2 linked regions of the Homo sapiens genome follow. The protein of the gene in region 2 purifies or fractionates together with the protein of the main gene of each other region. This does not show direct contact. Each region holds a gene or a part of one and is shown on either strand. Other genes may lie near its edges.

The links.
Region 1: the proteins of RAB21 (region 2) and ANKRD27 purify together in Homo sapiens (affinity purification with mass spectrometry; one large-scale study listed by BioGRID and IntAct). This does not show direct contact.

The regions. Positions count from the first base shown.
Region 1 is NC_000019.10:32,640,681-32,644,180, forward strand, and holds part of ANKRD27 (ankyrin repeat domain-containing protein 27), read right to left. Parts: intron 2,952-3,500; coding exon 2,892-2,951; intron 2,805-2,891; coding exon 2,751-2,804; intron 2,673-2,750; coding exon 2,607-2,672; intron 2,520-2,606; coding exon 2,443-2,519; intron 1,466-2,442; coding exon 1,344-1,465; intron 1-1,343. UniProt on the Homo sapiens protein: May be a guanine exchange factor (GEF) for Rab21, Rab32 and Rab38 and regulate endosome dynamics.
Region 2 is NC_000012.12:71,792,863-71,796,362, forward strand, and holds part of RAB21 (ras-related protein Rab-21), read left to right. Parts: 3' UTR 1-3,500. UniProt on the Homo sapiens protein: The small GTPases Rab are key regulators of intracellular membrane trafficking, from the formation of transport vesicles to their fusion with membranes.

The DNA.
Region 1 (3,500 bases), on a different chromosome or scaffold from region 2:
TGCTTGAGGCCAGGAGTCTGAGGCCAGCCTGGGCAATATAGCAAGACCCCCACCTCTACAAAAAAATATGAAAATTAGCCAAGGGTGGTGGTGCATGCCTGTAATCCCAGGTACTTGGGAGGCTGAGGCAAGAGGATCACTTGAGCCCAGGAGTTCAAGGATGTAGTGATCTACAAATGCACCCAGCCTGGGTGACAGAGTGAGACCCTGTCTCTTTTTTTTGTTTGTTTGTTTTTGAAACGGAGTCTCGCTCAGTCACCCAGACTGGAGTGCAGTGGCGCAATCTTGGCTCACTGCAAGCTCCGCCTCCCGGGTTCACGCCACTCTCCTGCCTCAGCCTCCTGAGCAGCTGGGACTACAGGTGCCCGCCACCATGCCCAGCTAATTTTTTTTTGCATTTTTAGTAGAGACAGGGTTTCACCGTGCTAGCCAGGATGGTCTCGATCTCCTGACCTCGTGATCTGCCCGCCTCAGCCTCCCAAAGTGCTGGGATTACAGGTGTGAGCCACCGCGCCCAGCCGACCCTGTCTCTTAAGAAAAAAAAAAAATATGTTAACTCCAAGCAGACCATGCCTTGCCACCCCCTTGGACGCTGAAAGAGCCCAGGGAGGTGGCTTCAGTGATAAAAAATGAAGATGAGCCCAGAGCCATCACCTAAAGTCTCTTTCTTCCTAAAGTCACCAAGGTCCTTCCTAAGGTCACTTCCATTTTATAGACATGGAGTCCACTGCCCATGTGGAGTTTCACTTTTTTTCCATTTTGAAATTTTAAGTAATTCATTCACATTTAAAAATTCAAACAATACAAAAGAGCAAACTGTGAATGTTCCTCCCATCCCTGCCAGCCAGTCTCTTTTCCCAGAGGCTCCTGCTGTTGCTTCCTGCACATCTGTCCAGGACAGCTATGAGCTCACCATCATATCGTGGCTAAACAGCTATCCCCCATTCTTTGATGCTGTTGGCTGGAAGTCTACCATATGCATTCCTGTTTATTTCATTCCATACACTCAGGATCATCCCTTATCTACACATACAGCTATGTCTCTTCCTTACTGACTTTTTCTTGACTTGTTTTCTTTTACTTCTTCTTTTTTTTTTTTTTTTTTGAGAAGGGGTCTCACTCTATCACCCAGGCTGTAGTGCACTGGTGTGATCATAGCTCACTGCAACCTCCAATTCCTGGCCTCAAGTGATCCTCCCACCTTGGCCTCCCAAAGCACTGGGGTTACAGAGGTGAGCCACTGCACCCAGCCCCATAAAAATCCCTTAAGACAGCATCACTCTTTGCTTTTTCATCTGGATGTAGCATCTACCCCTTGGCCAGTCCCCTTTCCAAGCACAAACCTCTCTGGCTTGGAGACTGTGTAATGAGCTGCACCACTTTTCGCAAGCAGACAAGCTTCTGCTGTGGGGAGGTGCATTTGTTCAGCTGAGCCAGCTCTCTTTTGGCACGAGGTATGTTAAAGCTGTAAAATAATTTGGAAAGTGACAACTTCAGAGCACAGTAAGAGAACCCTCTGGCCTGGATCTAAGAACACATCTCAGGATCTACACTTCTCACAACAAACCAGAAGGAATGAAACACAAAAACAGATACTGAGAAGTCATCTGACTCAAGTCAGCGGCAAAACAGAAGAGCCTTCAATCCCATTCAGGCTGCCAGGTGATAGAGTTGTACAAGAAAAGCTGAAAAAAAAAAATCCTATTCCTAGAGGGAAACAACCCAAAGAGGGTTGTGGTAGGTGAAACATTTTTGTGTCCTAATGAAACTTAAATTAGGCTCGGCGCAGTGGCTCACGCCTGTAATCCCAGCACTTGTAAACCAGGGTGGGCAGATCACTTGAGGTCAGGAGTTCAAGACCAGCCTGGCCAACATGGTGAAACCCCATCTCTTCTAAAAATACAAAAATTAGCAGGGCATGGTAGTGTGCACCTGTAATCCCGCTACTCGGGAGGCTGAGGCAGGAGAATCACTTGAACTCAGGAGGCAGAGGTTGCAGTGAGCCGAGATCACACCACTGCACTCCAGCCTGGGCGACAGAGTGAGACTTTGTCTCAAAAAGAATAAAAATTAAAGAAATGAATTAACTCCTAAGTAGGTATCTCTATGGCAAGGTTCCCTTGGGTGGGCAGGTGGGATGTCCCCTGCACGCAGAACCCACATGGGCAAATTACATGCCCACTTGGGGACCAGCTGCACAAAACCCCGTGCCCAGCGGCTCCCATCCAGCTGGCGTGCTGGTGCAGTGTGGGAGGGGGACGGCCACACACAGTCACCTATAAAGGGCAGCCCTTTATCTTTGGTTGCAAGTAACTGCGCTGCTCCTCAGAACTAACCACATCAAACCAGCGTGTCACCTCTGCCACCGAGAGGGCCTGCTTCCGGGAGAAGACAGCACCCCTGCCTCTGAGGACACCAAGCCGCTGTGGCGCAAACCCTTACCTGAACTCCGGTTTCACACCAATATCTTTCTGCTGAAGATCTTGAAGGCTTCTTGTGATTTTGTTAAAGGCCGCATCCTAACAACAGATTTTAACGAACCTTCAAATTTCTCAAAAAGCACAGAAGAAGGCTTCCATCTTGGGTGATAATAACTGAGAACCTACCTCACTTGCCTCCATGGTCCCCACGTATTTAAAGATCAGGTTGTAAATTTCATGATGGACGTATATCTGTGGAATCAACAGACCCCATTCAGGGTGTGAGCGGGCAACAGGGTGTGCCTCCCAGCCACTCCGCCCCACCCTCACCTCCACTGCCTGCTTCATCAGGTTCATCTGGGCCTCCTGCTTGGCGAGCATTTTCTAGAGGGCAAGAAAAGCACAGTGAAAGGGCTTGGATTTGCATGGGGGTGCACCACAATTCTCCCTCTCAGAAGTCCTGCTGCTTACCAGGTGAGAGTCCCTCAGAAGCTGCTGGAGGCATTTGGTGTAGAGAGCATTCGCTGAGTCCTAAACCACATAGAGCAGAGGGACAGGCCACCCTTACCAGCAAGGCCATGACGGGGGAGCCGGAGCGGGTAAGGCGCACAGAGCTTCAAGTGCTAACACAAGCTTTATGAAGTCAATTACGTGATTTTTCTCAACTTTTTTTTTAGGTGTATATGCATTAAAAGCAGGAGAAACTTCCCCTTGGGGTTAACACAGAGGATAATAATACTCATTGTTATACTTCCCCATGACTTTACCACTTGGTTTGTTTTTTCTTTTTAAGAGACAGGGTCTCACTTTGTTGCCCAGAGTAGAGTGCAGTGGTATGACTATAGCACGCTGCAGTCTCAAACTCCTGGGCTAAAGCCATCCTCCCACCTCGGCCTCCCAAGTAGCTGGGAATACACGTGCATGCCACCATGCCTGGCTAATTTTTGTATTTTCTGTAATGATGGGGTCTTTTTATGTTACCCAGGCTGGTCTTGAACTCCCAGCCTCAAGAGATCCTCCCATCTCGGCCTCCCAAAGTGCTGGGAAGACAGGCTTGTACCACCATGCCCGGTTAAACTA
Region 2 (3,500 bases):
TGTTCACATTCTGTGTTTGATCAGATATGTACCTGCCAAACTTTTGGAGTGAGATAATTAGAATGACAGTAGTTGAAGCTGACAGTGAATTTGAGGTAAAGCTGGAAAGAATGTTTTTGAATTTTGCAAATAATACATTTTCAAGCCAGATTAAAATTGAATAACTTACTTTCTAGCTTCAAGGGGGTAATTAAGTGATCCTCTAACCCAAATTGCTTTTCCAAATTTTGTGGTAGCAGTGAATAAACTGATGCCTCCTGCTTATTTAGACAGCAGCCATTTTTGTTTGGTTTGGTTTGGTTTTGCGGTGATTTTTTTTAACCTAGAAAAAATACAATTTAAAAAGCAATCATGTTGTTTTCTTTGCCTTTGACAGATGTGGCCTTGTCACCACACAGTAAGCCAGAACACAATCCATTCCTGAGTCATAGTAGGATAGTTTGTGTAATTCTAAATGCACTCTCCAGTTTAAGAGTGTGGGTCCCTTTTTTTCTATCTGAAATTGAAGATACAGGTCAGAAAGATGGTTTAATGAATATGAATTTTCTAAACATCTTTTCAGTGTCTTTTAAGGATATTTTTGATATTACAATATAATAAAGTTAAATCATCTAGTCCTCCTGGCCCTTCTGGTTAGAAAATAGAGCGAAATCATCCGTTTAAACACACACACACAAACTATCCCATTAGTTGGTTATACACAAGTTACTTTCATTCTTACTAGTTCACAAAAGGTTAGTAAATTTAGTGATTTAATGAGTTCTTCAAAACATAAAAGTCCTGTAAAGGAAAAGCTAGAGGATGTGAGAGGAGTAATTCATCCCCATCAAAAGATTTTAGCCAAAAGTAGTGGCATAAGAAATTTATTTATGCGAAAGACATAATTTTGGGTGAACTTTCTTGAAGATGGTCAGAAAGGGCATTGTTAAAGGAAGGAGATGGTAGATTTTGGGTTCTGGGTTCTAGGTTCTAGGCTAATAATTTACTACTTTGGTATGTTGCCTTGAGGCTGACATTTGCTGCTCTGCTAAGACTAAAGCTGGCCCTTTCCAATCAAAAGTGTTAAAAGCTGGCTGGGAGCCATGGCTCATGCCTGTAATCCAGCACTTTGGGAGGCTGAGGTGGGTGGATGGATCCCTTAAACCCAGGAATTCAAGACCAGTGTAGACAACATGGCGAAACCCCATCTCTATCCAAAAATATACAAAAATTAGCCAGGTGTGGTGGTGTGTGCCTGTAGTCTCAGCTACTCAGGAGGCTGAGATGGGAGGATTGCTTGAGCCTGGGAGTTAGAGGATGCAATGAGCTGAGGTCGCACCACTGCACTCCAGCCTGGACGACAGAGTGAGGCCCTGTCTCAAAAAAAGAAAAAAGAAAAAAAAAAGTTAAAAGTTGTGGCATGGTGGCTCACGCCTGTAATCCCAGCACTTTTGGAGGCTAAGGCAGGTGGACCACCTGAGGTCAGGAGTTCGAGACCAGCCTGGCCAACATGGTGAAACCCTGTCTCTACTAAAAACAAAACAAAACAAAACCATATATATATTATATATATATATATATATATATTTTTTTTTTTTTTTTTTTTTTTTTTTTTGAGACGGAGTCTCGCTCTGTCCCAGGCCAGAGTGCAGTGGCGCTATCTCGGCTCACTGCAAGCTCCGGCTCCCGAGTTCACACCATTCTCCTGCCTCAGCCTCCCGAGTAGCTGGGACTACAGGCGCCCGCCACCACGCCTGGCTAATTTTTTGTATTTTTTTGGTAGAGATGGGGTTTCACCGTGTTAGCCAGGATGGTCTCTATCTCCTGACCTTGTTATCCGCCCGCCTCGGCCTCCCAAAGTGCTGGGATTACAAGCGTGAGCCACCGAGCCCAGCTATATTTATAAATTTATATATATTTCATATATATATTATATATATATAAAATTAACCGGGCATGGTAGTGAGCCCCTGTAATCCCAGCTACTTGGGAGGCTGAGGCAGGAGAATTGCTTGAACCCAGGAGACGGAGGTTGCAGTGAGCAGACCTGGTGCCACTGGACTCCAGCCTCGGTGACAGAGTGAGACTCTGTCTCAAAAAAAAAGTTAAAAGTTGTTAACTAGATGTCGAATTATTTTCATAGTAATCACCATGTGTAAGCAATTCTCATCTGTGGAATGTTTGACAGGGATAAGATTATTGAAAATTGGGGGGAATTTTCTTAAATATGGAACTAAGAGCTAAAGAGTTCAATGATGATTAAGACCACTAGTCTGGCAAGTGACTTTTATTTGTCCTTTTCTATTGATAATGAATTCTAGGAATATGGATGGATTTCATTAGAGAAATAAAAATGAGCAAGATTTGTGATTCAGAATATTAAAAGTTAAGAATCCATGAATAGCCCCTTAAAAATATTGTCAAAGCATCATGGTATTTGTAGTGGTGCTTAAAAAAGAAGCAGCAGCAGCTGTTCTAAGCCAAGCACTGCTTGAAAACAAAACAAAACAGAACAAAACCTTATATTTAATAAAATGGAGAAATTTGGGAATGTCCCTAGCGTAATAATGCCTTCTACTGACATTTAAAGTCAGCTTAAACATCATTAGGGAAGACTATGACTGTTTCTATGACCTCTAGTCACAAATTTAACTAATTTAAGGTTAACTAATACCTCTTTCAGAGTTGGGCAAAAGAAGAAAAAAAAAGCCTTTATTTGTGATCAGTAAATTATAAATTACACAGAAGCTTCCAGCTACCTGGTATTTGCATGAAGAATTCTAAATTTTTTATATGCCATAATTTTTAGTAATGCTGTCCTTGAATTCACTTACATCTCTGCTCTGGTTTTTTGAAGCTCATTAGGATGATACCTGTCATCTCTTGGAAACACTGGAACTAGAGAACTGGAGGTGTTCACCCCCATTTTTTGCTACATTGTTGAAAACTGAGTAGAATTTTGTGTCCAAAAATCCTTAGTCTGTGATGGAATTTTTTAAAGTATATGTGAAGTTTTTTACTTCTTCAGTTTTTCAAGATAATTTTGCTGTTTTTGCTTTTTATTTATTTGCAACTAGAAATTGCATGTGCCAGTTACTTAATTTAATACATCTAATGGGAGATTCAAAGCAAACCATTAAAACTACCATATAAACTCAAATGAAATTTTATGACATTCTAATGTACATACTCGCCAAGAAATGCTACAAGGAGCCTCTCTGCAAATGCCTGATGGGGCACTCTGAGAATTAAACAGGAAATGGACAGGAAAAGAGGCAAAGCATAGAATAGCCTCTGTGGTATACACACAGACAATGTAAAATCCAAGAAATATAAGGTCCAAGGAGGAATTGGTTATTGAAGTAGAGAACCTCATCATGAGATTTGAGAATAGCTTTAGAGTTACTCTTGGGATAGTGTCTCATGGCCCTGTGAGGGAACTCTACAAATTTTATCCATTTTGCTGGGCAGTTTTAAGAGCTACTTTTTGTCTGTACTTTCCTTAATTTTCATATTATTTC